Linked DNA regions of Homo sapiens: all the other regions are linked to region 1. Evidence: fine-mapped expression QTL. A gene starts in region 1. Each other region holds a variant in brackets. All regions are shown on one strand. Distances are between the middles of the regions.

The links.
Region 2: its variant is fine-mapped to the expression of HTATIP2 in whole blood (TOPMed, PIP above 0.99).
Region 3: its variant is fine-mapped to the expression of HTATIP2 in esophagus muscle (GTEx, PIP 0.96).

What each region holds. Positions count from the first base shown.
Region 1 is chr11:20,358,104-20,368,537 of GRCh38, reverse strand. HTATIP2 (HIV-1 Tat interactive protein 2) reads right to left here and starts at 4,824. Exons shown (of 5, transcript NM_001098522.2): 1 at 4,106-4,824; 2 at 1,257-1,364. The coding sequence starts at 4,300. RefSeq lists a cis regulatory region at 766-776, enhancers at 699-843, 92-1,291, 7,586-7,805 and silencers at 4,475-4,617, 4,404-4,823.
Region 2 is chr11:20,273,765-20,284,198 of GRCh38, reverse strand. No RefSeq gene overlaps it. Among named protein-coding and RNA genes, the nearest start is that of HTATIP2, 85 kb to the left of the region's middle. RefSeq lists an enhancer at 5,482-5,651. The variant A/G (reference allele first, on the strand shown) is at 5,668.
Region 3 is chr11:20,338,674-20,349,107 of GRCh38, reverse strand. No RefSeq gene overlaps it. Among named protein-coding and RNA genes, the nearest start is that of HTATIP2, 20 kb to the left of the region's middle. RefSeq lists an enhancer at 5,954-6,481. The variant C/T (reference allele first, on the strand shown) is at 6,577.

The DNA.
Region 1 (10,434 bases):
GGAACATGACCCTTTCTAGGAGAGATAATGTGCCAATTCCTGGGAAAGTCAAACTTCTCTATAATCCATAGTTCCCATCACAGAGCTCCAATCCCAGCTGTGTTCCAGGACAGATAGGCAGAACTGCAGAAGGTATGGAAATACATCTTGATTGAAAGCATACATAGAATTACTCTTTGCATCACAAGGAGGCCCAAAGAAATACATCTGAATCTAACTACTCGGTTGGTATAAATGAATAGTTCTTCACTATATGCTCCCTTAATGTTTCAGGTGAAGGGGTCTGGCTTATAAACCTAAGGAGAATTCCCATGGCAGAGTCATAGTCATATATATATATATTTTTTCTTTTTTCTTGTTTTCCTGGGATTACAGGCATGAACCACTGTGCCTCGGCTTTATTTATTTATTTACTTTTTTCACTTTCTTCTGTTTTATTTATGTATTTATTATTAAATATTTTTAAATTTTACTTTAAGTTCTGGGATACATATGCAGAACATGCAGGTTTTTTCAGCTCCAGCATGTAAATTCTGCCAGAGGAATAAACTATAGTCAAAGTATAAATTAAATAAGATGTACCCGCACTAACATTTGCCCAGAATCCAGGTAGTAAACTCTGATTTCTAACTATGTAGTAAACTATGACTTCTGTACAGGAGCTGACTCAATTTAGAACACCATTAAAAAGAAAATAAAATGTGCGTTAAAAGACTTTTGCGTCAGTAAAGACTGAATCATTAGTGGGGTTGAATCATCGCTGAAGGCTGAGTCATCGCTGGAGGCTGGTTGAATCGTGCCTGTGTTCTGATGTTCTATTCCAGAAGTTTAAAGCTTGACATGAAAATAAGTTGAAGCAAATCACTCAAGTGAGACAGAACATTTCAAATTTCAAACATTTATTAAGGGGAAAAACAGCTGATTGTTAACAGCATAAACCAATTAGTTTTACTCAGACATCATGGTTTCCCTTAGTCAGGGGATGTAGTGATAGCGATAATCACAATAGGCAAAATCATGTAAATATTTACGACGTCTCCAGCACTGGGGCCTGAACTCAAGGATTACTTTGAAAGACGAACTTATCAGTACTATTAAAAGGATACCAAAGGTTAGTGCAGCATATAGAATCTTAAACAATAAAGGCTTATTCACATTTAAGCATTGCAACAGGCACAAAGAAAAAGAGTGAGCAAGAAAAGAATCCTTGATATTACTGGCCAGCAAAAAGGGAAAAGAGCATATGCCTTCCTTACCGCCCCAGCTTTCCCTCTGGTGGTACCCAGGCAACAGAATCCAACATCATGACCTTGAAAGGCAGAGGCGTAGTCATCCAACTTTTCAAAGTCCACCACTTCTTGATTCTAGGCAAGGACACAGTTGTATGTAGTTTCATGTTATTTAAACAACAGACCAAAAACCCCCTCTAGATTTAAAGACTAAGTTACAGAACATTACTGACAGGCCTGTCCACTTAACATCAAATTTTACAAATTCCTTTTCTCCAACCAAAAAGCAATGAACCTCAGTTGAAAATCAACAACACACACATATGTCCACAGTCTATATAACTGGACTAGGGGTGATCCAGATTTCTGAAGTCAGGTTCGATTATAATCTCTCTCTGGAAAAATAAAAGACCTGTGTGTAGCTAACCAGGAAGGAGACCACTGAGGTATGATGTGAGGGCAAGAGATGGCGTTTGGCATCTTAAAGAAGACCTAGCTGCAAATCTTGGGCTTGCTACACTCACTAGGCATGTAGTTACGGGCAAATTATTCATCATACACTACAGCTTTTTTTTTTCAGCTGTAAAATGGGGGTGATAATCTTTCCTTCAGTCCAATCCATGAACCATTTGCATTATAATTAGTCAGGGAGTGCTTAATAAAAAGGCATATTCCTACATCCCACACCAATAGTTCTGAATCAGAATCTGCACTTTTAACAAGCACCCACCTTAATTCTCATGCACACAGAAGTTTACGAACCTCCATCTAACCTTATCAGTTTGCTGTATAACTTAAAAAAGAAAGCATGATAAATTCCTATCATCCAAGAACTCCGATAAAATGTTGGTTTCCATCCTTACTGTCAACTCTGAAAAGAATTTTTCTGGCACTGCCTATGACACTAAAGAAAAATAGGGTTTCACTGTTAATCCCAGCACTTTGGGAGGCTGAGGTGGGTGGATCACGAGGTCAGGAGATCGAGACCATCCTGGCTAACATGGTGAAACCCCGTCTCTACTAAAAATGCAAAAAAAAAATTAGCCGGTTGTGGTGGTAGGCACCTGTAGTTGCAGCTACTCGGGAGGCTGAGGCAGGAGAATGGCGTGAACCCAGGAAGCGGAGCTTGCAGTGAGCTGAGATCGCACCACTGCACTCCAGACTGGGCGACAGAGTGAGACTCCATCTCAAAAAAAAAAAAAAAAAAAAGAAAAGAAAAGAAAAGAAAAAGAAAAATAGGGTTTCACAAAGTACCTAGTCAAACAGATGTGCCACCAAAACTCGACACTCAAAACACAGATTTCAATTTGTTTCTTTTCTTTTTTTTTTTTTTTTTTTGAGACAGAGTCTCGCTCTGTCACCCAGGCTGGAGTGCAGTGGCACAATTTCTGCTCACTGCAACCTCCATCTCCTGGGTTCAAGTGATTCTCGCACCTCCGCCTCCTGAGTAGCTGAGATTACAGGCGTGCACCACCACGCCCAGCTAATTTCTGTATTTTTAGTAGAGACAGGGTTTCACCATGTTGGCCAGGCTGGTCTGGAACTCTTGACCTCAAGAGATCCCCTGCCTCGGACTCCCAAAGCTCTGGGATTACAGGCATGAGCCACCACGCCCAGCCTTCAGTTTCAGCTTCTAATTACCATGAATATCTGACACAGCCCATGAAACCGGTGAGAACACATCTGCCTCAGCCTGAGGAAAGATGTCTGTTTTAAATAAACAAGACTTGATGGACCAAAGGCATTCACACCATGACCTGAACACAGACCTGCGAGAATCAAGAACATTTATTTGCAAGATGGCTTGTTATTTGAAATGTTCTTTCTATGAAACCTGTGGGGCCAAATTCTGTAGCTGTGGTGTCTTGAGATCACACTATGTTAATTTGTTGCAGTTCACAGATAATTCCCTTTAAATAAAGAACAGAATCTCCAAGAAACTCAGGCTTCTGATATTTAGGGGGTCATGACAAGACAGAAGTCTGGTATATCATTCCTATAATCATAAAAGTGTAACTTAGGCTGGGCGCGGTGGCTCACGCCTGTAATCGCAGCACTTTGGGAGGCTGAAGCGGGAGCATCATCTGAGGTCAAGAGTTCGAGACCAGCCTGGCCAACATGGTGAAACCTTGTCTCGTCTCTACTAAAAATACAAAAGTTAGCCAGGAGTGGTGACGCACGCCTGTAGTTCCAGTTACTCGGGAGGCTGAGGCAGAAGAATCGCTTGAACCTGAAAGGCAGAGGTTGCACTGAGCCGAGATCGTGCCACTGCACTCCAGCCTGGGGGACAGAGTGAGACTCCGTCTCAGAAAAAAAAAAAAAAAAACCTTTAACTTAGAGTGAAGGGAATATCCGATTTACAGACACAAGCCTGGGAAGTCAGGCAGGGCAAATTCTTGTAAGTGAATAATCCCACCTTTCACTGCCATAGACCTATCTCACTCTGCAAAGCAGTTTCAGAATCCCTGACAATATTAGTGTGAAGTGCGCAGGTTGACAAAATCAGCAAAGTGGCTGAGAAAATTCTCAAGGTCACCAGGGCTGCCTCTAGAATACAGCTTGTATGACCCTGAAAACAGTGCTCTTCTGTCTCACCAGCCCCCACCCCCATTACAACCCAGACCCAGCTTTATAGGGTTGCAGATGGAGAGAAGGGCTTTGCCCAAGACCACACAATGAGCGGGAGGGAGGCACACCTGGGCTACAATCCAGGAGTCAGACTTCTGGGAGGGACTCTCACAGACCAATCTTGGCCAAGTTTTGATGGCCTCTCACTACCCCCACCACTGGCAGGGCAGTATTCAGCCTTTAGGCATGAAATATGTTCACCTCGCAGAATCCTGGGGGTCCATTTGAGTCCCAGCTGAAATACCCACCACATTTTTATAAGCTTCCTCGTCGAAGGTGAGCTTCCTCCGGCCAATGAGCGTGACTTTGGAAAACAGGCCCTGCTCCAGGATTTCCTTTAAGAGCACTCTGCCGGTTTCTCCGCTGGCGCCCAAAATAAAGACGGATTTATTCTGCATCCTGAAGTCTTCCCGAAGCTTCGACAGGGCTTCTGTTTCGGCCATGCTGGGGAAATAACATCGACAGATGCCGGTCTTAGGGTGTCAGGGGACTGCCAGTCCTTATCCCGAGGAACAAGGGCTGTTTATCTGTTAGGGAGGAGGATATTGTTCTCCGCAGTCCGGGCTCTGGGGAAAGTGCTGAGTCACGTGCGGGGCGCGGCTCCCCGGCCATCGCCCGCACCTGAGCCAGCAGACCCATCGGAAGGGGCCCGAGCTGGAGGGTGCGCCCAGGTGCCACAAGCTGCTGGCATCACTGGGCATACCCCACGGTATCCCCGGCCCGGCCAGGAGACCTGGCCCAGCTCGGTCCCATACGCGGAGGGGTTACCTGGGGCCAGCCCCCGGCCCCGGGTCCTCACGACGCAGCAGGAGCAGGGCGGCCGCCAGAGCAGCCGCCGCCGCCGCGCTCAGCGCCGCAGGCCCGGCCATCAGAGCATCCCACCTTCCCTGGTCGGACCGGGGGGGTTGGAGGCGACGGAGACAGCGCCTACCCGGCTTGGTCTTCCGGGTGGCCTCGCGGCGACGCTGCCTCGCCCCGCCCACAGGGGCGGGACCTGGAGACGAACTCCTGGCACCCTCACAGGCGCGGGGAAGGTGACCCCGAGAGCACGTGCGCGGAGCCGCGACCCTTCCTAAGTTTGGAATCTGCAAGACCCTCTTCCCGCGTTTTCCCTCACCTGCTGGGCTCAGCTCACCCAGGCGCCAGCTAGTAGACTTGCCAGACTTGATCTTCAATGGTCCCCCCAGCTGGAATGTCAATTGTATATTGGCCATCATCTCAAATTCACCAAGTCAAAAACTTAACCCTGCCTACCCAACCACCCCAAACAGGAATAAAACAAACCTATTCCTAGCCTCTCTTGGGTGTCACTGTCCCTACATAAACATACACACACACACGCACACACACACACACCTCCTTCTACCCTGTCAAGTCAGAAATCAGGATTCCTTTGATTCCTTTCTTTTCTAGCCTTTCCACACTACAGACTTATCAAGTCCTGTTATCCCATCTGCCTTACAAATATTTCTCCCATGTAATTCAAGCTCGCATCATATCTCCCCAGAATAAATGGTCTACCTGCCCAGGTCCTGGCCTAATTCATCACCTAGATGGTTGAACCCGGGTGACCTTCCACACCTGTGATTCAGTCTTCCTAGCCCAGATCAGTGGTTTGGGACACAGGTATCTACACTGGGCCTGTCCTGGATCTTGGAAGTCCTGAACAGAGGTTAGAATGACAAGCAGAAATCTGAATAATTTCAGATTGTTCAGGTTTTGTTGGGAACATTGGTCATTTGGGGGCCCCACCTCCCATCTAGAAGCCAATGAAACACATTGCCTCTTCCATCTCCATGGGAGTTATTATATGTAGGCTTTGCCTAGGCTCAGCAAGCCAGAGGCTCACGCATAGGTTTTCAGTTTTGGAGGAGTAATGAAAAGATGCAGTGAAGGCCTGAGATATATGTGGGTTGGTTGGGGCAAGGGTATAGGATTATGGCATCATATGATCCACCAGCCATCTGATGGTCTGATCTTGTCTTAAATTCCTGCCTGTTTTCAGAGACTGTTGTGAATACAGTACTTCCTGTTATTCTTCTGATAAATTCCTGTGCTGTATAAGCTTACCAGATATATTCTGTTGTTTGCAATAAAAAAGCTTGATTAATATAGAGCAGTGTGGTTCATTCCCCACTGGCCTGTCACAGTGCCTGGACTCTTCCCTTTGAGTTCCTAAAGGTTTTCTACAAGAATGCAATGTTAAACCTTGTCAGCAAACACTGTCCTAGTAATTCATTTATCAAATCTGTCACAGAAATTATTCATTGTACCCTGTCTATTCTTCCCCTTTGTTTAAAATTGTGGCATAATTAATATACAATAAAATGTACAGAACCTAAAGGTTCTGTTCCATGATTTTAGGAGATTGTATATACACCTAAATAACCACCACCAAAAACAAGATATAGAGCATGTCTGCCATCCCTGAAAGTGCCTTCATTCCCTTCTTGCAATCTCTCCCCACTCCAGAGGTAATCACTTTCTGGTCACTATCAACATAGATTAGTTTTGCCTGTTGTAGAATTCTATTTAAGAGTACAGCATGTACTCTTTTGTGTCCCAGGTTTTTGGCTTAACACATATTTTAGTATTTATTCTTGTTTGTAGGCCTGCATTATGATTTCTATGGGCCCTAAGCACTTCATGAGCCCCTTCATTTTATGTACACACACTATATAATCAAAAATTATGTCTTATGACTATGTTGCTATAAAGATGAATATGACAAACTATTTATATAATCAAAAATTATGTCTTATGACTATGTTGCTATAAAGATGAATATGACAATTTCTTTCACCTAAAACATTTTCTTCCACCTAAAAGTTTATTTTCACAGGCCCCAGAACTGTGCCTACTGTGCCAAATGAGTAAATCAGCCCTGGTTGTTTCATGTATCAGGAATTCATTCCTTTTTATTGCTGAGTAGCCTTCCAGTATTCCAGTATGAATATCCCACAACATGTTTAAATATTCTCCTGTTGATGGACATTTGGTTTGTTTCTACCTTTTGGCTAATTATGAATAAGGCTCCTATGAACATTATTGGACCAGTCTTTCTGCAGTAACATGTTTTCATTACTCTTGGACATATATATACACACACACACACACACATATAATGTTTTATATATATATATAATGTGTATATATATATAAAATGTGTATATATATAATGTGTGTATATATAATGTGTATATATAATGTGTATATATATAATGTGTGTGTATATATAATGTGTGTATATATATAAAATGTGTATATATATATATAAAATGTGTATATATATATAAGATGTGTGTGTGTGTGTGTATATATATATATATATATATATATATATATATATATATATATATAATATAATGACCCTGCAGGCAATCAGACCTTTTGGTTGTCTTCCCTTGTCCCCTAAAAATTGCTGTTATTCTGTTCTTTTTCAAGGTGCACTGATTTCATATTGTTCAAACACACGTTTTACAATCAATTTGTACAGTTAATACAGTTATCATAGTGGTCCTGAGGTGACGTATATCCTCAGCTTACGAAGATAACAGGATTAAGAGATTAAAGTAAAGACAGGCATAAGAAATTATAAAAGTATTATTTGGGAACCGATAAGTGTCCATGAAATCTTCACAATTTATGTTCCTCTGCCGGAGCTCCAGGCAGTCCCTCCATTCGGGGTCCCTGACTTCCCACAACACACTTGCAAGCTAGCACGAGCACGTGACAGTGATTTAGCCAACGAGAAGCAAGCAGAGGTAATATGTGCACATTTGAATCACATCTTTATAAGGAAGTTACCTTCTTTCCTTTCACTTTCCCTTTCCCTTCACTTTCCCTTTCCCCCTTTGCTTAGGCCAGAATGTGAATGTACTGGTAAACCAGCTCTGACCATGAGGAGAAAGACACTCTCTAGAGGATAGCAGGGCAAGGAGCCCTTGGATGACTTCATAGAACAGAGCCGCCTGCCCACCCTGGACTGCCGGCACACCTCTGGGGAGTGAGAGAAAAATCAACTTCTGTCATGTTGGAGCCACTGTAATTTTGTTACAGCAGCTTAGCCAGCATTTTGCCTAATGTAAGATTCTTTTAGTCAATCTTGTCAATGGATATTTACTGATTATCTAATGCAAGCCAGATACTGTGCTAGGCACAATAGATTTTTCCAAGGTGAATCAGGGACACCAGCTAAATTCACTCTCATCTTGAAGGCAAGTCATAAATACTTGGGAAGCTAAATAAAGTTAAGCAACATTATAAAACATCCCCCAAACTTTCACAGGGTGGCACATGCTGAAGGCCAAATGAGCATACAGAAATAGAAGGAAACTCAGAGAAAAACAAGTCCATGCCTTTCCTTCTCTGACAGCTGGAACCATGTCATCCAAGTGCTGAGATAATGTGACAAGACCTAGGCTCCTAGAGCAACCGGACCACAAAAATTCAGGGCAAAGGGGAAGGGGAAAGCATAGGGAAGGAGGGAAAGGGGACATAAAGAAACGGAGCTGGCATGGAAAGATCCTTGGCCAGAGACCTGCCTGCCACGTTCAGGTTTGCCTTTGATGAAGTCTCTTCATATATCTTGGCCTCCATTTCCCTATCTGTAAGATGGGAACTGTTTCATTACATTCGCTTTGCTCCAAGGAACAAACTGACTCATGGCGAGTAAAGATGGTGAATATTGTAATATTGTAAGGCTATAAATCATGTATAAGAGAGACAGAATCTCAGAGAAATCTCAAAACAGGATCTGCTGTAGGATGGGGCCTTAGGGAGACTGGAACTGTATTTAGGTCAGATTTAGAGTCCTCAGGATCAGGGATCCATGCATCTTCACTTCAGAGCTATATTTTTAGTTATACCTTCATTAAGACTCTGTTTCACGTGTTTGAAGCCCCAAACTCAAAATGTTTTGAGGAAAAAAAAAAAGGAAATGTCCTGGCTCATGCAACTAAAGAATCAGTGTATATAATAGTCTTGGCATGACCAGAATCAGCCAGTCAGCCAATGGGGCCAGGACCCAGTCCCTCTGCCAACCATGGCTCTATTTCCCTTCACGTCGGCCTTACTCTCAGACCCTGCAAGATGACCCAAAGGCTGTGCTCTTGCTCATACTCTTCATTGTCTAAATTCAACCAGAAGCTAGAGGGAACTTATATTGTGCAGACCAGTTTTCTTCAGGGCATACAATAAGGTAGATAAATGAGGAGAATGGATGATTGAAGCTATCAAGTACATCCCCCTAGATTCAAGTCCAGTAGAAAGAGCATAACTGTAAGCAGAAGTCCCCAGCTGTATCTCCTTAGTTCTGATTAAACCTTATGATTGTCACTGTGGCTCTGGGAATGAAGCCGGGTGGGGCTATCTCTTCCCACATGTCTGGGAGTAGGGGAGGAAGTAAGGTCCCCAAGGAAAGTAGAGGTCACTATTATAGAAAGAAAACAGAACGGATGTTAAATAGCATCTAAAGTGGCTATACTTGTTCCCCATTTATCTCATTTATTTGTAAATATGAATGCTAGATAATTTTTTTTTTTTTTTAACAAATGAGAGCTTTAAATAACTGTAGCATGACTAAGATATCTGGTTGGGCACATAAGAGGTTGGATTTGGTAAAGGTAGGTGTCTGAAAGAAAGTATTGTAATTTTCTGCTCTCACATAACAAATACAACCATGAATTGCATTCAACAGTTTAGGTAGTTGATTTAGTGTATCTATCGTGTTCTTGATAGCTAATTGTTTTTATAGATGGAGAAACTGAGTCACACGTTTATTAAATATATCATCTAAGATCTTGGGATTCAACTTTGGTGCCAGGACAAGAACCTGGATATCCAGATCAATGACAAAATCATGAGTAATACCTGTGTAATTCTAGAATGTTTTCAGGAAAGCATAATTCTTCTTGTTTTTAGCTGATAGCACTGTATTTGTTAAATTCTTCAGGTTCCCTAGCACTCATGGGTATGTCCTCTTACTGATATATACCAAAGGAATAACCTATGTAAAAGCACTGTGGTAGGTAGAAGTATGGCTGGTTTTGAAGGGCCAAAAACCAATATGCTTGAAATGGAGAGATGGAAGCATGGGGCAGGGGCAGGGCAGGGGAGGGGAGACTAGAGAGGCAGGTAGGGACCAGCCTGTGAAGGACATCATAAGATACATTATCATTTATAATTATTGTTAAATTTTAGGTTTTAAAATTTAGCAAACTTGATTTTATTAGATTTATTTTTTATGGTTTTCTTCTATTCAAGGTAGTGAAATATTACCTTAATTACCATTAATACATTTATTAGTACCTGTTACTAGTAGTACATTTAACAAAGTTTAAAAAAAAAGAGGACGTTTTCATAAAATATTAAGTACAGCTGAGTGTATTGTAAACATAGGATATGGTAAACTCATGAAAATAGTATCTGAAGGAGTAAAGTTTGGGAAACACTGGTATGTTGGGCATTTTTCTTTTTTCTTTCTTTTGTGAGATATGATCTTGCTCTGTCGCCCAGGCTGTAGGGCAGTGGCATGATCTCAGCTCATTGCAACCTCTGCCTCCCGGGTTCAAGCTCC
Region 2 (10,434 bases), 84 kb after region 1:
AGACATGTTTGTGTTCTATCCCCTTTGTTTCCTTTTCTTGCTTGCTTTAGGTAGGGAAAAAAATCACTAAGTTGATCAAAAGGGGATCCAAGAGCCAAAGGCAAGATTCAATGTGAAAATGGGATTTTTAGTTTCTGAAAAACTGAGTACTCCATCTTTTGGCTACATCTACCTATACACATATAAGTATTAGGCCCTGAAAGTAGCAAATGCTTATAAAATGGCAAAATCTTACTAAAGCTAATTTAAAATTATAGTGGAATTTTCCAAATGAACAACACTGTACTTTAAAAAATCCATTCAAAAATCATTGTTGGTGTGTCTGTATATCTACACATCTATGTATGTTATATGTATGTGATAATCCTTGGTAAATGAAGCTAGTTTTCGAATTGTTAGCAAACTAAAATATAAAAGGCTTCAAAATTGTCAGTTAAACATAATTGAGACATTTTTACCTGAGTCTACTGGTCAGACAGGTTTATTCTGTCTTAGCTACATGTTTTAAGGTCATAAAACTGATACTTCTGTAATATTTGTCACACTTGTTTGACTTGTCTGTGAGCTAAAGCTGTAAGAGTTGGCTGCTAGACTCTCCTAAAGCCTTGCACACATCTTGCTGTGAGCCTGTCTTAGGTTTGAGCCTCTAGATTTTTGAGGTCTGGACAGGTGACCATGCTGAGGCCTAGGGACATAGTCTCAACAGTTCAATCACCAGCTGCAAGGCAGAGCCACGCCCCACATGGCCCTATCCTCCCTGGTCCAACTTTGCCTCCTGGCCATTTTGGGATTGGTTGGATCCTCCAAGCAACTCTTCACCACTGTGTTCTCTGTCCTGAACTCTATATCTGGGACATAGAAGGGTCCTGCCTTTCATAGCTCTTCTGGGTGCCATGTGGTTACTTGGGACCCAGGAAAACTGGGAAAGACATTAGGGAGTTTATCTATGTCACAGTTTCAAAACTCTTCAGTAATTTAAAATCTTACAGTCATGTTAATAATTTAATAAATTAAGTAAAAATAATATAGTGTTTGAGTCATTTCTAAGTTAAAATACTGAAACATTAATTATTATTATTATATTACTTTTTGAGACAGAGTTTCACTCTGTTGCCCAAGCTGGAGTGTAGTGGCTCAATCCTGGCTCTCTACAACCTTTGTCTCCCAGGTTCAAGTGATTCTCCTGCCTCAGCTTTCAGAGTAGCTGAGATTACAGGCATGCACCACCACGCCTGGCTAACTTTTTTTGTATTTAGTAGAGACGGGGTTTCACCATGTTGATCAGGCTGGTCTCAAACTCCTCACCTCAAATGATCCACCCGCCTCTGCCTCCCAAAGTGTGGGATTACAGGCGTGAGCCACTGTGCCCAGCTGAAACATTAATTATTAAACATACGTTTAAGTTTATATACTTTGGCATTTTATTTTTATGTGGTATACAAAAGCTAAATATATTTAGATCTGTTAATAAAAAAATTGAGAAAGTATATCTTTTTAAAAATATGTAATATGGTTTTTATCTATAAATAATAATATAAAACAATTAAAACTTAAATCCTAGGTTTTCACTAGAAATTTGGGTTACTAGAGTTAAAATTGTAGTTAATATATGTAATTCAAACTACTAGATACTTTAAAATTCTGTACACAAAGTATATAAAAAGCAAAATATGTTTTTGGTGAGGAAAGTTGTAAAGGAATAAAAATGTGTGTTTGTTAAAAAAATAATTTTGTCTAGTTTAAAAGTTATTTAAAGGTAATTTTTAATTTCAAAAATAAAAAATATATAAATAAAACTAAAATATAAAAAGCTTAAAAAAGAAAAAAGAAAAATCTTGTAAGAAATTATAAAAGGTTTATGAAGATCTTATGTGGTTAAAAGCTGACTGAGATTGGATGATATATTTATAAATTTATTAAAATTAGCTTAATATTAATAATACATTAATACAAAAGTAAAATTTGGTTTTTACTTTTAAAAAACTTTATGTAGTATTAAGAAGAGACAGTAAAATACTTTCATTCAAATTTGCATAAACTACAAAAAAAGGTGGGGAGAGGGAGACAGATTCTATCTCATACCGTTTTTATTAGGTCTTTTGATTTTTTTGGAAAATAGTCTCCTCTTTATCAAAGAATAAAGGTTTTTGCTTTTTAAAAAAAAATAGTTGATTATCTGTTTGGCTAAGTGAATGACTTTTATTTTACAGTGACTTGTGATTCTTTTTTTTTTTTTTTTTTTTTTTTTGAGGCAGGGTTTCACTCCCATCACCCAGGCTCGAGTACAGTGGTGCAATCTCAGCTCACTACAATCTCCACATCCTGGGCTCAAGTAATTCTCCTGCCTCAGCCTCCTGAGTAGCTGGGACTATAGGTGTGCACCACCATGTCCAGCTAACTTTTGTATTTTTAGTAGAGACAAGGTTTCACAATGTTGGTCAGGCTGGTCTCCAACTCCTGACCTCAAGTGATCCACCTGCTTCGGCCTCCCAAAGTGCTGGGATTACAGGCATGAGCCACCACACCTGGCCTCTGTTTTGATTAAGTGTTTTAAACTTTTGATATATTTGACAGGCTTCCAAAAATCAAATTTCAAAATCAGAATTAAGGCTTTTCACCTCAAACTAACTTTGGGATGTTATGGAGGGCCCCTGCAGCATCTAAAAGAGATAATAAATAGGCTTATTAGATATGTTAAATTATATGGGAAACCTTGTCAAATAACAAATAATGGTTAACCTTCTTCAAGTTACATTTTTATGAATATGTTATTAATATATCTTTCAAAATTGCATGAGATTCCTAAAATTCTAGTAGGTCTTTATATGTTACCCATCATAACTATGGTTATTATGTTAAATTATTATAGGCCACAGAAATAACCAAATTTTCTTGTCAACTGTGTCTTTAACCATGACCATTCTAAGTCCTTTCCACAGTTAATTGCTGAATTCTGATGCATTTCCTGGAAGTTCTTTGCAAGCAAGTAAAATCCTAGAGTGTTGTGTCTTCAAGGAAGTTCATGGAAAGTATGGAAAGGACCCTGAGAAGCACTGCTGAATAGAAATTTTTGATAACTTTAGGATAATATCGTTTGGACTGGGTAAGAATTCCTGGAATTCTAATAAAGAGACTGGCTGGTTTATAAAACTGCTAACCCAAGCAGAACAAGAATTAGTTATATACCAAGGAAATACTTTGCCAGACTTTCATGCTAAATCAGCCAGTACTGAAATTGTTAAGATAGACAATTTGAGTGAATTCCATATCCAAGTTAAATTACCTATGATAACCCATTTAATAAACAGTTAAGCACCTGAATTGGAGAAACAAAATTGATATTTAAGAGGATATTTAAATATCAATTTAAGAGGATTTATATCCTTTTAAATATCAATATAGAAGCTTTCCCATGGAAGAAGGCTGATGCTATAACAATAGCTAAAAGATTATTAGAAAGTGTGATTCCCTCATAGGACACTCCTGGAAAAATCTCTAACAATAAAAGTACTTGTTTCACTGGACGAATTACAGAACAGTTAAATATGATATTATAGATACAATGGCATTAGGTAAAGCTAATTGAATCGACAGGATTGCCTTGGTCAAAGGTATTGCAGACTGATGACAATCAGATCTACTTCCAGTGCAAACTAAAAGTTAATCTTCTATAAATAGTCACTGGTAGGCTTATGCCCCTAATAATAGAACCTCATGTATCTCCTGCTCCTAAACTCCCATACGACTAAATGCTGCAAGCTTTAATGCATTATGCCAAAGTGTATTGTCACAAGGTAAAGAAAGCTTTTCCATGATCCACCAACTGAGGACCATCATGATCTAGAACGCAGAGATTGGGTCTTCTGGAAACGACCTCAGAGAAAGATCAACCTTGCCACTCACTCTGCAGCAGAACTGCAGCCAACTGTTTAAACCATGTTTAAATAAGGCAAAGATTGAGCTGCAACCAATCTGGCTATTTCTATACCTCACTTCTGTTTTCTTTATGTCACTTTCCTTTTCCCATACATAAATCTTCTCCAACCACACAGCCACACCAGAGTTGCTCTGAACCTATTCTGGTTTGGGGGGGCTGCTCATTCAAGAATTCTTTGCTCAATTAAACTCTGTTAAATTTAATTTGTTTAAAGTTTTTCTTTTCACACTAGTTTTGCAGATGTTAATTGGCTTCTATCTGCAATTCTAGAATTGGGCAATATTTTACATCAAAAATGGTTCAGAAGCCAGGTATGGTGGTGTGGACCTGTAGTCCCAGCTACTCAGGAGACTGAGGTGGGAGGATCACTTGAGCCCAGGAGTTCAAGGGTGCAGTGCGCTATGATTGTGGCTGTGAATAGCAACTGCATTCCAGCCTGGGCAACATGGCAAGACCCCCATCTCTAAAACAAATAGAAAAATGGTTCAGAATGCTTCATCCCACCACATGTGCAGGTTATATTTACAGTCAGAGGAAATGAAATGACATACAGAAAGCAAAAATGAGGTATAGAGACAGTCAGTTGGTTAAATCCCTGCATTTGCCTTAACTGAATCTAGTTTGAACAGTTGGCCACCTGCCACAGGCTGAAATTCGGCTGCTATAATTGGCTGAGACTCAGTTGTTGTTACAAAGGCAAATTCCTAAGTTAGGTTTTCTGTTGGTTTATTTGCTAAGTTAGGTTGCAGTTAGTTACACGGACTTGTACAGAGGCTTCTAAAGCCCAAATGTAGTTTGATTTAGAAATTTTTTCATACATTTTCAGCTGGTCATTCTAAGAAACTGCACACACAGGAGTAGCTCTAAAAAGCTGTCCTTCTGTAAAGGAAATTTACATCTAGAACAGAAATCTACATTATTGGAGTATCTGTATCAGGAAAAGGGCTGCTGGGAGATATATTACCTGAGAGAGACTTCAGCTGCATGACAAGACAACCTTTATTCACTGTACAATTCCTCCCCTCACTTTCCCATAACTTGTGCTGTCTGCCACTCCCCGAACCCACAAACTCAAAGCCTCTATTTCTTTCTGTAACTCAGGATGCTACAGAAACTTCAATCATCTGACCCTTCTTTGAGTCTCATATTTTGTGGGACTCCCATGGTTATGCATGTAATTAAAATGATTTTTTTTTTCCTGTTAATCTGTCTACTTTCAGTTTATTTCACAGACTCAATTCTCAAACCTTCAGAGGGTAGAGAGAAAGTTTTTCTCTCCCCGAAATACATTAGTTTCACGTCCTCAAACACAGCCCACGCCAACACTGCCCACAAATGTGCAGGGCTTCATGTTGAAGAGATGGGCAGGTCTGACAGGCTCTGTCCAGTTCTCCACTGCTGCGTACTTTCCTGATGTCAGCCCCGCTGGCTGTGTGCCTCAGCTGAGGAATGTGGCTGTATAGACTCCCCTCATGTATCATGTCTCCAAGTGAAAGAAGTAGAATTTGTAAAAAGAAAAAAATTTAAAAAGCTTATTTCATGTACACTGATTAGCATAAAATTGCTCCTTTGTCTCAGCTTCAAGGGAGGACAATGGTGCTGAGACTCCTGGCTGGGGGGAGTCTTCCTTCCTGCACTCTGAGCTCAGCAAGCCACCCCACACACAGACCCCATCCGCACGGGAAACCAGCATCAGCCACACTTTCAACTGTTAAACAGCAAACAAAGCC[A/G]TTGCTTTTTCCAAGAACACGGAAAAATACAGCAGCCCTATGATGCTGAGATCCAGGTACACATATTGGATTCTAAAATATACAACTTTCTACATCGTAACACCTCTCAAGTAGGGATAATCCTAAAATTAATAGCACTCTGAAATCAGTAGCACATAAAATAAAGGCATGTCTAATAATGGAGGGTGTCTTGGATAAAAATCTTACAGTGAAAGGCAATAACAGAATGTTAGAAACCGAGAAATTAATAAAAAAGCCTCATAGTTATAAAGCTCTGCGCATCTCATAGAAATTTTCCTTCCCATTCCAACCCTTTAAAGAAATGTCTTCCAAAAGACCGAATTATGTCTTATCAATCTGAATATGAGACTGTGTATTTAAAATTATCTAAGAGTATTTTGTTCCTGGCAAAATTGCATGGAAACAGAACCAACTTTGGGACAACAGAGCAAACAAGTCAGTAGACAGACTTGGTTCTAACTTCCATTTCAGGTATCTCCGATTCCTTTTCCTTTTTGAAGCCTTATTTTCCTGATCTATAAAAGATAGACGACAACATTCCCTTCCTTGTTGTTGTTGTAGGATTAAATGAAATAAAGCATGGCACATAAGAGATATTTAATAAGTTACTTTCCTCTTTATATATAATTCCAACAAGTTCATTCGATCTGCAAAACGTGTCTATCAAGTGAGGAACTGAGGAACTTCAGCAAGATCACGCAGCTTGTGAAAGAGTCACAGCTGGTGTCTCCAACAGATCTTCCAGAGCCAAAAGTCTAGTGCCCTATTTTCTAGAAAATGGACAATTCTGTCAAAATCCTCACCACAGGATTTTCACTCTCCAGAGCAGGGTCTCCAGCAAGCCCCTTATTTAGGAACACTCTGGTTCCTGAAGAGCCACAACTCATTCAATAACAAAGTTCAGAATAAACAAATCCAGAGAATGACATTAAAACGGCTAGGCTACTTATAAGACATTTGATTGATTCTAGTGAACATTTGTGTGAGTTCTTGTGTCAAAGATGCAGGGGTCATAATCAGCTCTGATATGATCCAATGCCTGTGACCCTCTCCTCCTGACACCCTCTGGGGCCCACCAGTTCTGGGCCGACACAGCTGCTCTGCTACCCCAGTTTGCAGCTATATTGACACAGCCATTTTCATGGTAGGCCCGTTGTAAATGTGTTGTTACATGGTGCGTCTGCCCCAAATTGCACGGTGTACGTCAATTTTTGTGTGTGTGGTGGGGCTGGCACGGGGGTTGTGGGGGTGCTAGGGCCGAATGGAGCGTGTGATGGGGCAACCCGCAGGAGACCTAACCCTGATAAATTGTTTACTTGTTAGCGATGGGGCTCAAGAGTGGGCTGGGGGCTGCAGGCTCAGCAGGACGGACGTAGAAGGTGGACCCACGCCAATTACCGGCCATTGTGGTGTCCCACCCCATGATTGACACCAATGTCTCCCCTCTCACCATGGGTCCTTTTACTATCCCGGACCCAACACAAGCCCCACTGTGCTAATACTATGGTGTCTTCAATTTCCTTTGCAGCTAGCAAAAATTAACCTAGGCCTCCGGCCTGTAGGAGACCCAAGGGCCTTATTTTATTATGCATTTTTCCCCAGTTTTTCAAGGATGAGTAAAAAAATAGAGGTTGCTAAGGCCAGTTGGACAACAAAGGAAGCAAAGGGACAAACATTATCTTTGGATGACTGACTTCAAAGTTAATGATCTCCCCCACTGAATTGTGCCCTCTGCAGCTCAATGAGGTCTTTGCCATCAGATAAAGAAGCACCTCTTTAATCCACTAACACTTCTTTGTCCCATTGTGGCAAAATGATCATTTCATCAGTTTCGGGTACTCTCTGCCTGGAGAGTTTTTTTAGCCTGAATGATTCAGAGCAGGGGAGACAGAGAAGGGTATTTCTCTACTTCATTTTTCCTCAAGTGACGGCTGAATAACTATGCAAAAAAATTAAGGCATAATGACCCGGCAACAGTGACAAAACCTAATTAGTCACGGAGGCCACTGGGTAATGAGCCGCAAAACCCGGCTCTTGAGTGTGTAATAACTGTATTTTTCTCCATTTCTTCCCCTTTAGTCACAGTCTTGTGTGGCATTTTTAACAAACTAAAATGGCACCAGATGCAACAGGGTTCAGACATTTTAACTTGAATTAAGAAACCATATGTTCCGATAAGTCATGGTCTCTTCTTTCCCACAGGCTAGGTCCTCCATCTGTGAGGTAACACTCCAGTGGTGAGGGAGTGATGGCCATTGGGACGATCACCCCACGAAGGTGACTGGGTGTTAGGGTTGGGAGTGGGTCCTCCAGAACCCGCCTGAGACTGAGGGTCCAGCTCTTGGAAGCAGCCCGGACATTCCAGCTGTGGGCCCCAGATATGCTCCCAAGCCACAGCAAGTCTGAGAGGCCAAAGCTGGAAGAGAAGATGGGAGGGAGGGGTAAGAAGTGGGAAGGGCTCTGTGTTCAAATACCAGTGTGGAAAGCTGAGAGCTGCCTTTAACAACGTTATCCGCTTTCACGTAGAAGAGTGCTTGGCCATCTAAGGCATACGTTAGCCAACCCTGAGTGCCACAAAAACCTTGGGCCTTAGTACCTCCATTGTTTTTGAGATGAAGGAACTACAGACCAGTGAAGTTAGGAAATTGCCCATGGTCACAGTTAGAAATGCAGGAATCAGGATTTCAAGCTCTATTTGTGATCATTATCCTAGTATGTTTACTATGTTTGTGGTCATTATTACTGTTAATCATAATTTCTTCTTAGAATTAGGAAAACTTAAAAGGATGGAAAGTTTACGTATCATACAGCTTGGCATGATGTATCTCTTCAATCCTTGGACAGGGAATTACTTTCCAAAGTCAGTTAGGTAAAGTGTCATTAAGACATAATTTTTATTTAAAGCAAGCCATCATCTACGGTGTGTTCTTGGTCCCACTCTGGGTTTAATATGAGACATTTCCAATCCCAGTTCGTGGAGGAGACACTGCCCCACAGTGCTAAGTTGAATTTCTGTTCTACTTTCAAGAATGTCGTCTTCTGGTTGTCACTAACATGGGGACTGTGAGTGGGTTTACGAAACAGCAGACATTATGATCTCTGTTCTCTGAGAAACAGGAAAGCTGACCTTTCTTTTGTTTTTCTCCTTACCCAGCAGATGAAGGAAAAAATCTCCCCAAGATGAATCCAGTTCTCCCTTGACTTCAATAAGGGATTCATTTCCTCCTGAGCCTCTCTGGTCATGGAATCACATAAGGGAATCCTGAATCAGGAATTCCATGTAGAATGTGGAGAATAGAATTAACCACAGAACACAGACACAGTTTTGGACAGGGACTGCTGTCTTCTTGAGAAATCTTAAAATAGCATGCATTAAACAATAAAAACAAAAAATGTGGCCCTTCTCTCCCTGTAACAGGAACAAGACATGAAATGAAAATGCAAACAAAACAAATAAACAAAAACAGATGTATCTGTGCAGTTTGAAGGTTTATACAATGTAAATTATATTCTTAACTCCTCATACAATTCTGACACAGCAAAGACCTGGTGTCTGGGACTGTATAAAGTGACAGCTCTTTGTCTTTCTAAACCAGGACTGGCTGCATAATTTGCTGGGCCCGATGCAAACTGAGAATGTGGGATATCTTGTTCAAAAATTATTAAGAATTTCAAGATGGCTATGCAGAGTGTTAGACCTTGTGCAGGAGGACCTCTTTAGGGATGAGGTCCTGTGTGACTGCACAGATTACACTCCCATGAAGCCAGCCCTGTAGAGAAAGCTAATGCATCAGTGTCCATGTAGTGAAGGCACACACTAGACAACTGTGAATAGTTCAGAAGGCTGCCTACCATTATTCCAGCTTCTCACTCAGAACCGTTCAAAGTTGAGTCTTTCTTCTTTAAACTTTGAACTTCAGAAAGTCTACTTTAGCATCTCAGAAGTACTGTATGTAAAATGGGGAGTTTCTCCATGCAGACAATGCCATTTCTTCTCGACTCTTCTCCAAACTTTCATCTATTCTAGTCCCGGCAAGCTTGGCTGCTCTGTTCATTGGGCCTTTTCCTGCACTGAAGTCAAGTCATTATCCTCTTTTTATATACTGCACTTCGTGCCCTTGTGAACCTGTTGAAAAATAGTGAAAGAGAGTTGAAAAGTACCACTGGCTCCTAAAAATAGTGCTGACTAGGAGGCAGAAAGGGGGAACTCCGGTTTTATTCAGTGCTAAAGATAACACCACCAGAATGATAGACTCCTCCGAATTGTTTGTCCCCACTGGCCATTGTCCCTTGGGCCCTGAATGAGCCTCTTAGCAGCTCTTGAGGGCCTGTCACAGGTAGGCACCCAACAGAGATAATTCCCAGCCTATGCTTGACTGCCCCTTTATAGACACTCACTCATGGCTCTGAAAGGCCTCAGACACTGTTGAATAAACTCCTACTCGCTTCCATAAACTTTTTCTCCCACTGAATTTTCCGGGGATGTGAACAGCTTCCCAGCCTCACCAGAGGATGCTTCTGAATGCACTCCTGTTCTGAATCAAAGCCTGACAGCCAAGCCTCTTTCGAAAACAAGAAAGAAAAAACGGACCATCAGTCCCCAGGAAGAATCTCTGTGCTTTCTTCTGCAGGTGAGGGCCAACTCCCAGAGGCTCTGGTCTGCTTTCCGCTCTTCTTATGGGTTTATTTATTTTGGTTGCAGGAGGCATCTTTTTCTATGAAGAAAAAAACCCTCTGTTTGTGGTT
Region 3 (10,434 bases), 19 kb after region 1:
TACATAATTTATATGAGTATTTTTTAAAGCTGATTAAATAGAACTCTTTTACAAATTAATTTTGGAAATACCATTCAGAGCTAGAAAAATATCACACGTACATAACATTACATGCCAGACACATACATACACATATAAACATATGTACAGATACAAAAAGATCTTATCGCTTTCATTCTAAATCTTAGCAATGAGTTAGATATAAACACAGAAACACAAAATTCACTAATCTACCAAAGAGTTGATTTTCATTTTTGTCTTATTTTTGTAATGCAAATTATGTTTTTGGCAGATGGAACAAGTTAAGGTTACCTACACAATGATGGCTAAAGGAATTTATTTTATTTTATTTTACTTTAAGTTCCAGGATACATGGGCATAATGTGCAGGTTTGTTACATAGGTATACACGTGTGCCATGGTGGTTAGCTGCACCTATTGACCTGACATCTAGGTTCCCTCCCCTTGCCTGCCACCCCCCAAAAGGCCCTGGTGTGTGTCATTCCCCTCCATGTGTCCATGTGTTCTCATTGTTCAGCTCCTACTTATGAGTGAGAACATGCAGTGCTGGTTTCTGTTTTTGTGTTAGTTTGCTGAGGATGATAGCTTCCAGCTTCATCCACGTCCCTGCAAAGGACATGATCTCATTCCTTTTTACGGCTGCATAATATGCCATGGTGTATATGTACCACATTTTCTTTATCCAGTCTATCATTGATGAGCATTTGGGTTGGTTCCATGCCTTTGCTATTGTAAATAGTGCTGCAATAAACATACATGTGGATGTGTCTTTACAGTAGAATGATTTGCATTTCTTTGGGTATATACCCAGTAATGGGATTGCTGGGTCAAATGGTATTTCTAGTTCTAGATCCTTGAGGAATCGCCACACTGTCTTCCACAATGGTTGAACTAATTTACATCCCACCAACAGTGTAAAAGTTTTCCTATTTCTCCACGGCCTCACCAGCATCCATTGTTTCTTGACTTTTTAATAATCACCATTCTGACTGGTGTGAGATGGTATCTCACTGTGGTTTTGATTTGCATTTCTCTAATGATCAGTGATGTTGAGCATTTTTTCATATGTTTTTTGGCCACATAAATGTTTTCTTTTGAGAAGTGTCTGTTCATATCCTTTACCCACTTTTTGATGGGGTTGTTTGTTTCTTGTAAATTTGTTTAAGTTTCTTGTAGATTCTGGATATCAGACCTTCGTCAGATAGGTAGATTGCAAAAATTTTCTCCCATTCTGTAAGTTACCAGTCCACTTTGATGATAGTTTCTTTTGCTGTGCATAAGCTCTTTAGTTTAATTAGATCCCATTTGTCAATTTTGGCTTTTGTTGCAATTGCTTTTGGCATTTTCGTCATGAAGTCTTTGCCTATGCCTATGTGCTGAATGGTATTGCCTAGGTTTTTTTCTAGGGTTTTTATGGTTTTGTGTTTTACATGTGAGTCTTTAATCCATAGCAAGTTAAGTTTTGTATAAGGTGTAAGGAAGGGGTCCGGTTTCAGTTTTCTGCATATGGCTAGCCAGTTTTCCCAGGACCATTTATTGAACAGGAAATCCTTTCCCTGTTGCTTGTTTTCGTCAGGTTTGTTGAAGATCAGATGGTTGTAGATGTGTGGTGTTGTTTCTGAGGTCTCTGTTCTGTTCCATTAGTCTATACGTCTGTTTTGGTACCAGTACCTGCTGTTTTGGTTACTGTAGACTTGTAGCATAGTTTGAAGTCAGGTAGCATGATGCCTCCAGCTTCATTCTTTTTACTTAGGATTGTCTTGGCTATATGGGCTCTTCTTTGGTTCCATATGAACTTTAGTTTTCTCTAATTCTGTGAAGAATGTCAATGGTGGTTTGATGGGAATAGCATTGAATCTATAAATTACTTTGGGCAGTATGGCCATTTTCACAATATTGATTCTTCCTTTCCATAAGGATGGAATGTTTTTCCATTTGTGTCCTCTCTTATTTCCTTAAGCAGTGGTTTGTAGTTCTCCTTGAAGAGGTCCTTCTCATCCCTTGTTAGCTGTATTCCTAGGTATTTTATTTTCTTTGTAGCAATTGTGAATGGGAGTTCATTCATGATTTGGTTCTCTGCTTGTCTATTGTTGGTGAATAGGAATGCTTGTAATTTTTGCACATGGATTTTGAGACTGAGACTTTGCCGAAGTTGCTTATCAGCTTAAGAGTTTTGGGGCTGAGATGATGGGGTTTTCTAAATATAGAATCCTGTCATCTGCAAACAGAGACAATTTTACTTCCTCTCTTCCTATTTGAATACGCTTTATTTCTTTCTCTTGCCTGACTTCCCTGGCCAGAACTTCCAATACTATGTTGAAAAGGAGTGGTGAGGGAAGGCATCCTTGTCTTCTACTGGTTTTCAAAGGGAATGCTTCCAGCTTTTGACCATTCAATATGATACTGGCTGTGGTTTTCTCATAAGTAGCTCTTATTATTTTGAGATATGTTCCATCAGTACCTAGTTTATTGAGAGTTTTTAACATGAAGGGATGTTGAATTTTATCAAAGGCCTTTTCTGCATCTATTGAGATAATCATGTGGCTTTTGTCACTGGTTTTGTTTATGTGATGGATTATGTTTATTGATTTATGTATGTTGAATCAGCCTTGCATCCCAGAGATGAAGCTGACTTGATAGTGGTGGATAAGGTTTTTGATGTGCTGCTGGATTCAGTTTGCCAGTATTTTATTGAGGATTTTTGTATCAATGTTTATCAGAGATATTGGCCTGAAGTTTTCTTTTCTTTTCTTTTTTTTTTTGTGTGTGTATCTCTGCCAGGTTTAGGTATCAGGATGATGCTGGCTTCATAAAATGAGTTGGGGCGGAGTCTCTCCTTTTCAATTATTTGGAATAGTTTCAGAAGGAATGGTACCAGCTCCTCCTTGTACCTCTGGTAGAATTAGGCTGTGAATCCTTCTGGTTCTGGGCTTTTCTTGGTTGGTAAACTATCAATTACTGCCTCAATTTCAGAACTTGTTATTGGTCTATTCAGGGATTCGACTTCATCATGGTTCAGTCTTGGGAGGGTGTATGTGTCCAGGAAGTTATCCATTTCTTGTAGATTTTCTAGTTTATTCGCATAGGGGTGTTTATAGCAATCTCTGATGGTAGTCTCTATTTCTGTGGGATCAGTGGTGATATCCCCTTTATAATTTTTTATTGTATCCATTTGATTCTTCTCTCTTTTCTTCTTTATTAGTCTAGCTAGCAGTCTATCCAATTTGTTATTTTTTTCAAAAAACCAATGAAAACCTGGATTCATTGTTTTTTTGGAGGGTTTTTCATTTCTATCTTCTTCAGTTCTGCTCTGATCTTAGCTATTTCCTGTCTTCTGTCAGGTTTTGGATTTGTTTGCCCTTGTTTCTCCAGTTCTTTTAATTGTGATGTTGAGGTGTTGATTTGAGATCTTTCTAGCTCTCTGATGTGGGCATTTAGAGTTATAAATTTCCCTCTTAACACTGCTTTAGCTGTGTCCCAGAGATTCTGGTATGTTGTCTCTTTGTTCTCATTGGTTTCAAAGAACTTCTTAATTTCTGCCTTAATTTCATTATTTACTCAGGAGTCATATTGTTCATTTTCCATGTAATTGTGTGGTTTTGAGTGAGTTTCTTAATCCTAAATTCTAATTTGATTGCACTGTGGTCTGAGAGACTGTTATGGTTTCAGTTCTTTTGCTTTTGCTGCAGAGTGTTTTACTTCCAATTATGTGGTCAATTTTAGAATAAGTGCCAGTAGCACTGAGAAGAATGTATATTCTGTTGATTTGGGGTGGAGAGTTCTGTCGATGTCTATTAGGTCCATTTGTTTCAGAGCTGAGTTAAAGTCCTGAATATCCTTGTTAATTTTCTGTCTCATTGATCTAATATTGACAGTGGGGTGTTAAAGTCTCCCACTATTATTGTGTGGGAGTCTAAGTCTCTTTGTAGGTCTCTAAGAACTTGCTTTATGAATCTGGGTGCTCCTGTATTAGGTGGGTATATATTTAGGATAGTTAGCTCTTCTTGTTGAATTGATCCCTTTACCACTATGTAATGCCTTTCTTTGTCTTTTTTGATCTTTGTTGTTTTATAGTCTGTTTTGCCAGAGACTAGGATTTGCTTGGTAAATTTTCCTCTATCCCTTTATTTTGAGCCTATGTGTGTCTTTGCAAGTGAGATGGGTCTTCTGAATATAGCACACCAAAGGGTCTTGACTCATTATCAAATTTGCCAGTCTGTGTCTTTTGATTGGGTCATTTAGCCCATTTACATTTAAGGTTAGTATTGTTATGTGTGAATTTGATCCCGTCATCATGATGCTATCTGGTTATTTTGCACACTAGTTGATGTAGCTTCTTCATAGTGTCATTGGTCTTTATATTTTGGTGTGTTTTGCAGTGGTTGGTACTGGTTTTTCCTTTCCATATTTAGTGCTTCCTTCAGGAGCTCCTGAAAGGCAGACTGGTGGTAATGAAATCCCCCTGCATTTGCTTGTCTGGAAAGGATTTTGTTTCTCCTTTGTTATGAAGCTTAGTTTGGCTGGCTATGAAATTCTGGGTTGAAAATTCTTATCTTTAAGAATGTTGAATATTGGCCCCAACCCTCTTCTGGCTTGTAGGGTTTCTGTTGAGACATCTGCTGTTACTCTGATGGGCTTCCCTTTGTAGGTGACCTGGCCTTTCTCTCTGGCTGCCCTTAACATTTTTTCCTTCATTTCGATTTTGGAGAATCTGCTGATTATGTGTCTTGGGATTGATCTTCTCATGGAGTATCTGAGTGGTGTTCTCGGTATTTCCTGAATTTGAATATTGGCCTGTCTTGCTAGATTGGGGAAGTTCTCCTGGATAATATCCTGAAGTGTGTTTTCCAGCTTGTTTGCATTCTCCCGTCTCCTTCAGGTACTCCAATCAATCATAGGTTCGGCCCTTTTACATAGTCCCATATTTCTCGGAGGCTTTGTTCATTCCTTTTCATTTCTCTAATCTTGTCTGCATGCCTTATTTCAGCAAGGTGTTCTTCAAACTTTGATATCCTTTCTTCCACTGGGTTGATTTGGCTATTGATACTTGTGTATGCTTCATGAAGTTCTCATGCTGTGTTTTTCAGCTCCATCAGGTCATTTGTGTTCCTCTCTAAACTGGTTATTCTAGTTAGAAGCTCCTCTAACCTTTTATCAAGGTTCTTAGCTTCTTCGCATTGGGTTAGAACATGCTCCTTTAGCTCAGCAAAGTTTGTTATTACCCACCTTCTGAAGCCTACTTCTATCAATTCACCCATCTCATCCTCTGTCCAGTTCTGCACCCTTGCTGGAGAGGTGTTGCAACAATTTGGAGAAGAAGAGGCACTCTGGCCTTTTGGGTTTTCACTGTTTTTTCGTTGACTCTTTCTCGTCTTCATGAGTTTGTCTAGTTTTGATATTTGAGGCTGCTGACCCTTGGATGGAGTTTTCATGGGCACTTTTTTTTGTGTTGTTGATGCTGTTGTTGCTTTCTGTTTGTTTGTTTTCAATGGTCAGTTCCCTCTTCTGTAGGGGTGCTGCAGTTTGCTAGGGGTTCACTTCAGGTCCTATTCATCTGGTTCGCTCCCATGCCTGGAGATGTCACTCAGTGAGGCTGGAGAACAGCAAAGATGGGTGCCTGCTCCTTCCTCTGGGATCACTGACCTCGAGAGGCATCAACCTGATGCCAGTAGGATCACTCCTGTATAGGGTGTCTGACAACCCTTATTGGAGTGTCTCACCCAGTTGGGTGGCATGGGGAACAGGACCCTTTTAATGAAGCACTTTGTCCCTTGGTGGAGGGAGTGTGCTTCCCTGGGGGGAAACCCACTTGCCTGGGCTGCCTGGATTCCTCAGAACTAGCAGAAGGAAAGGTTAAGTCTGCTGGTCTGCAGAGACTGTGGCCAATCCTCCCCATAGGGGCTTAAGCCTAGGGAGATCAGAGTTCTGTCCCTGAGATCCTGGCTGGAGTTGCTGGAGTTCCTGCAGGAAGGCCCCGCCCAGTGAGGAGGGATGGGTCAGGGTCAGGCCTGAAAAGGCGGTCTGGCTATAGTCTGCCTCAGCTGGTGTGTTGGGTTGTGGGGCACGCCTCTTGGGAGCAAGCCATCCTGCCTCCCTGGCTCCAGCGGGGGCCGGGCGGGGGGGTGGGGGCGGTGTGAAGCGCAGCCTGGAGCTATAGAGATGGCTTGCGTCCTACTCCTGCCCAGGGAGCTTAGCGTGTTAGGCAGTTATCAGTCCCAGTGCTGGCTGCCGCCCCTCCCCCAAGGAGCTCAAAGGGCTTAGACAGTAGGCAGCCGCAGCTGTGGTGATGGTTGCCCCTCCCCGCAGGAACTCAGCAGGCTTAAGCAGATTTTAGCTTACTGGCTGTTGAGAATCTGCATGGCTCCATGGTTGGGACCCTAGGCCCCGGTGGCATGGGTTCATGAGTGGGATCTTCCGATCCGTGGGTTGCACAGTTCCGTGGAAAAAGCACGGTTTCCCCGCTGGGTAGCACACTCGCTCACCACCTCCCTTGGCTGGGGGATGGGTGCTCCCCCGGCCCGTGTGGCTCTAAGGTGAGCTGCTGCAACACACTGCT[C/T]TTCCTTCCTCTCTGTGGGTCATGCTAGCCACCTAGTCAGTTCTAATGAGAGAACCTCGGTTGCTGGTGCAGGATTTGCACGCTATTATGGTTCTTTTAAATGGGAACCTCCGATCGCCACTGCTTCTACTTGGCCTTCTTGGCCCCACCCCCAGGAATTTTTTAACCAATATTTGTGGAAAAATATGTTTAAATTCTCATTTGCCCTGACATGTAATCTTATGCAGGCTGTGAACTACATTCTAGGCAAGTGACTAGAAGACATCTAGCAGTTATCTGTGTGCATGTGTGTGTGTGAGTGTGTGTGTGTTTCAAGAGACGGAAGCTACTATGTTGCCCAAGCTGGTCTTGAACTCCTGACCTCAAGCCATCCTTCCACCTCAGCCTCCCAAGTAGCTGGGATTTCAGGTATGTGTCACCACACTGGGCTCTATCTGGATATTTTCAAAGCACATCTGAGTGGATAAAATAGACTATTTCCAATTAGGCTTTTTCCTTTTCAGCCTCAGATACTTGCTTTTGGGGGCCCTCGAGTCTCTTGAGAGCAGAGGAGCTGAAGGTTCAAGTGACTGAGGGGCTGGGGTGGAAAAAGGTCTGGCAGAGATGGACAGAAGAATGGAGGAGGTAGGAGCTTGAAGGGGGACATATCAAAGGATTCAGGAAACTGAATGGAAGATTGAAAGTGGCAAAAGGATGAAGGAGGAGCAGAAGCAAAGGGAAGGCAGAAACTTCAGAGGGGCCAGTTTTGGGAGATCTTAAGTTTCCCCAAGGAGCCAATGGAGTTCCAAATTATCCTCAGCAAAATTGTGCCAACAAGAAGGAGGTGGACATCTAGTCAGCAGGGGCTTGAGAAGGGGATTTCAGTTAAGTGAGAAGTTCCCATGGGAGGAGCAGGATTAAACAGAGAAAACAGAGAAGACTTAAACAAAATTGGTTCCATTAGGCCCTGAATATCAGCTTCCAATTAGGCCAATTTCTGACCATAGATCTTTAAAAAAAAAATTCTTTCAAATATCTTATTATCAAGTTTTAGCTGGGACAAACAGTAAATATCTCTGGCAATACTGAACTTCTTTTTAAAATAATTTTTTTGAAACTAAAGGTATCTATTTCAAGTGACTCAAAACAAAAGCCAATAAGCCTTTTATGACTTACAACCAACAAGACTTTTATAGCTTAACCGTGGACGCAAGAGTCATCTTCAAAGAGAGTGCAAAAAAGGCAGCCTTTCAAGATCCAGACCACTCCCAAAGATAGCCACAAGAAAGACAGACTTAGATGGCCCTTCTTGAGGGCTGGCAACAGTCAGTAAGACATTAGCGGAGAATGAGATGCAACCTACATTTCCATCAGGCCATATTCTCAGGGCCAACAACCTGATGGTTGACTGTCTGCACATTTCCCTGGCAGGCAGAAAGCCAAGCCAAGCTCTCAGGATGCAAAATGAGATAACTAGGAAAGCAGTAGCTGTCTCTGGCATGGAAAGAATCAGTAAACAAGATGTACCTCAAAACCAAGTTAGCCAAATGTGCAAGAATCATAATCCAAAGAACTAATGTTTGCAAGTTTTTCTTCTGCAAATATGAATATGGAAAAGAAAAAGTGACAAGGAGAAATTTTTACCTTTGTCTCTTAACTGGGTGCTACAAACAGAGATCTGAGAAAGCTGACTTTGGGAGAATGCTTACCTTTTTCTGGCTTTTGTCAGTTTCCCTGGATCCCATCAGCAGGATCTGAAATGAGTGAGGTGTCCAGCCGTCCCTTTGTGGTCACCAGAAACTGTAGGGGAGGAAAAATTTCTTTTTATCCTTCTAAGTTCTCAGCTGGGGCCTCTGTAACAAAAGGCAGATTAAGAAGAGAAAAGCATACAAATTTATTTAATGTAAATTTTATGTGACAAGGGAGTCTTCACAAGGAAATGAAGATCAGAAGTGGTTAAACCTGAGCGTTTTTTGATTTGTCATTTTAAGACGGAGTCTCGCTCTGTCACTCAGGCTGGAGTGCAGCGGTGCAGTCTCAGCTCACTGCAACCTCCACCTCCCACGTTCAAGTGATTCTCCTGCCTCAGCCTCCTGGAGTAGCTGGGATTACACGCACCTGCCACCATGCGCGGCTAATTTTTTTTTTTTTTTTTGTATTTTTAGTAGAGATGGGGTTTTGCCATGTTGACTGGGCTGGTCTTGAACTCCTGACCTCAAGTGATCCACCCACCTCGGCCTCCCAAAGTGCTGGATTATAGAAGTGAGCCACTGCTCCCGACCAAACCTGAGTGTTTTTATGCTAGGTTTGAAAAGTCATGGAAAGTTAGGAAAGTTGTGGGAAAATGTGATAGGACAAAAGTAACAAACTGGGGGAAATTTAGCAAGACCTGTTCATTCATATTTCTTTTGGTGTCCCTTCATCTTTAGGAATATGGATATTCCTTTCCTCCGGGTATAGAGTAAGGTACCTCTCACCTGAAGGTCTATAACCTGCTTCAGGATAGAAGGGCAAGGGAAAGTCAGAGAGTTCCTCCTACTGTTTCTCAAATTACTTCAGCTTAAAAATATTCAATATGCCAAGCTCCTATATTTTGGGGTAATGTGTCTTTGGGGTAGGCATCCTGAACTCCATTATCTCATGTAAGCCATCATGCCACCTTGGGAAGATCTATCAAGGAGTGAGGGCAGAGCAGAAGTAAAGCGCAGTCAACCAACAGAGAGAGAAATTGGGTCCTAAGGCCTTGTTTGCTATGATTATGCAGGCCGGTAAATTCTTTTCTCATTGCAATCTCTTGCAACAGAAGTAATCCAAACTGACGTGGCAGTTATATTTATTAATTTCTTACTTTGTGTCTATCCCTGTGCTAAGCGCTTTCCATGTCTTATCTGTTTTATCTTCTAACTGTCATAATAGCTCTATTAAGTAGAAATGAGATAGGCACTACTATTTTGGGGAAACTGTAAAAACCATGAAATAACTCATCTGAGAGCACACAATTTGTAAACGGAACAATCAGAATTTGAATCCAGTTTCAGGCTTTTCTTATAAAACTAGTATTCCCAGAAATGACACAACTACTCCCTAATGTAATATACATGCTCTAAAAAATATGACCTTGGTTGGTTGTCGCTCTAGGTAAGAGTAGCACATTTCTATCTATTCAAAGTTTCATTGATTTCTCCTTTCTCTGGGTATTGGTCAGGGTCACCATAGTCGAAGCCACCAAAATTTATCTCTCATTTGCATATTGTGCTATATTACTTGCCAACTGTCTTACTAGAATGAACATTCTATGAAAGCAGGAACATTGTTTTGTTCACCGTTGCATCCCTAACACCTAGAACAGTACCTAATCACCAAGGCATTAAATAATATGTTGCATGAGTGAATGAACAAATGTGGATCAGCTTTCCTTGACTATATTGGACAACTTGGAGAGCAAGAGAATACTTGAGAATGTTACACGCTTGATAATATTGATCGGAATCCTTTTTGTATCTTCCATATCTTCATATTGTAGAGGCTGAATGCACTTGGTCACACATACATACATGCAGGCAGGTATGCACGCATGTTAACAGATAGATACGTCAACTGCACTCTTAAAACTCACTTGTTTCTCTCAGCTTCCACAGCAGGATCTGAGAGCATCTGGTTAGTGCCTTGAAACTGAATGTGAATGTTCCCAAACCCTGTTCTAGGCTCCTTTGCTAAGAGCAAAGCAGGGTCTACATTCTTGGCACTGTTGTGGTGGAACTGGCCCCAGCAGAGGAGCCTGAGAGATCTGAGGTCTCATCCTAGCTTTGCCACTTACTAGCTTTGTGGCCTTAGGCAGAGCCTTTTATGTCATTGTACCTCCATTTCCTTGGGCATAAT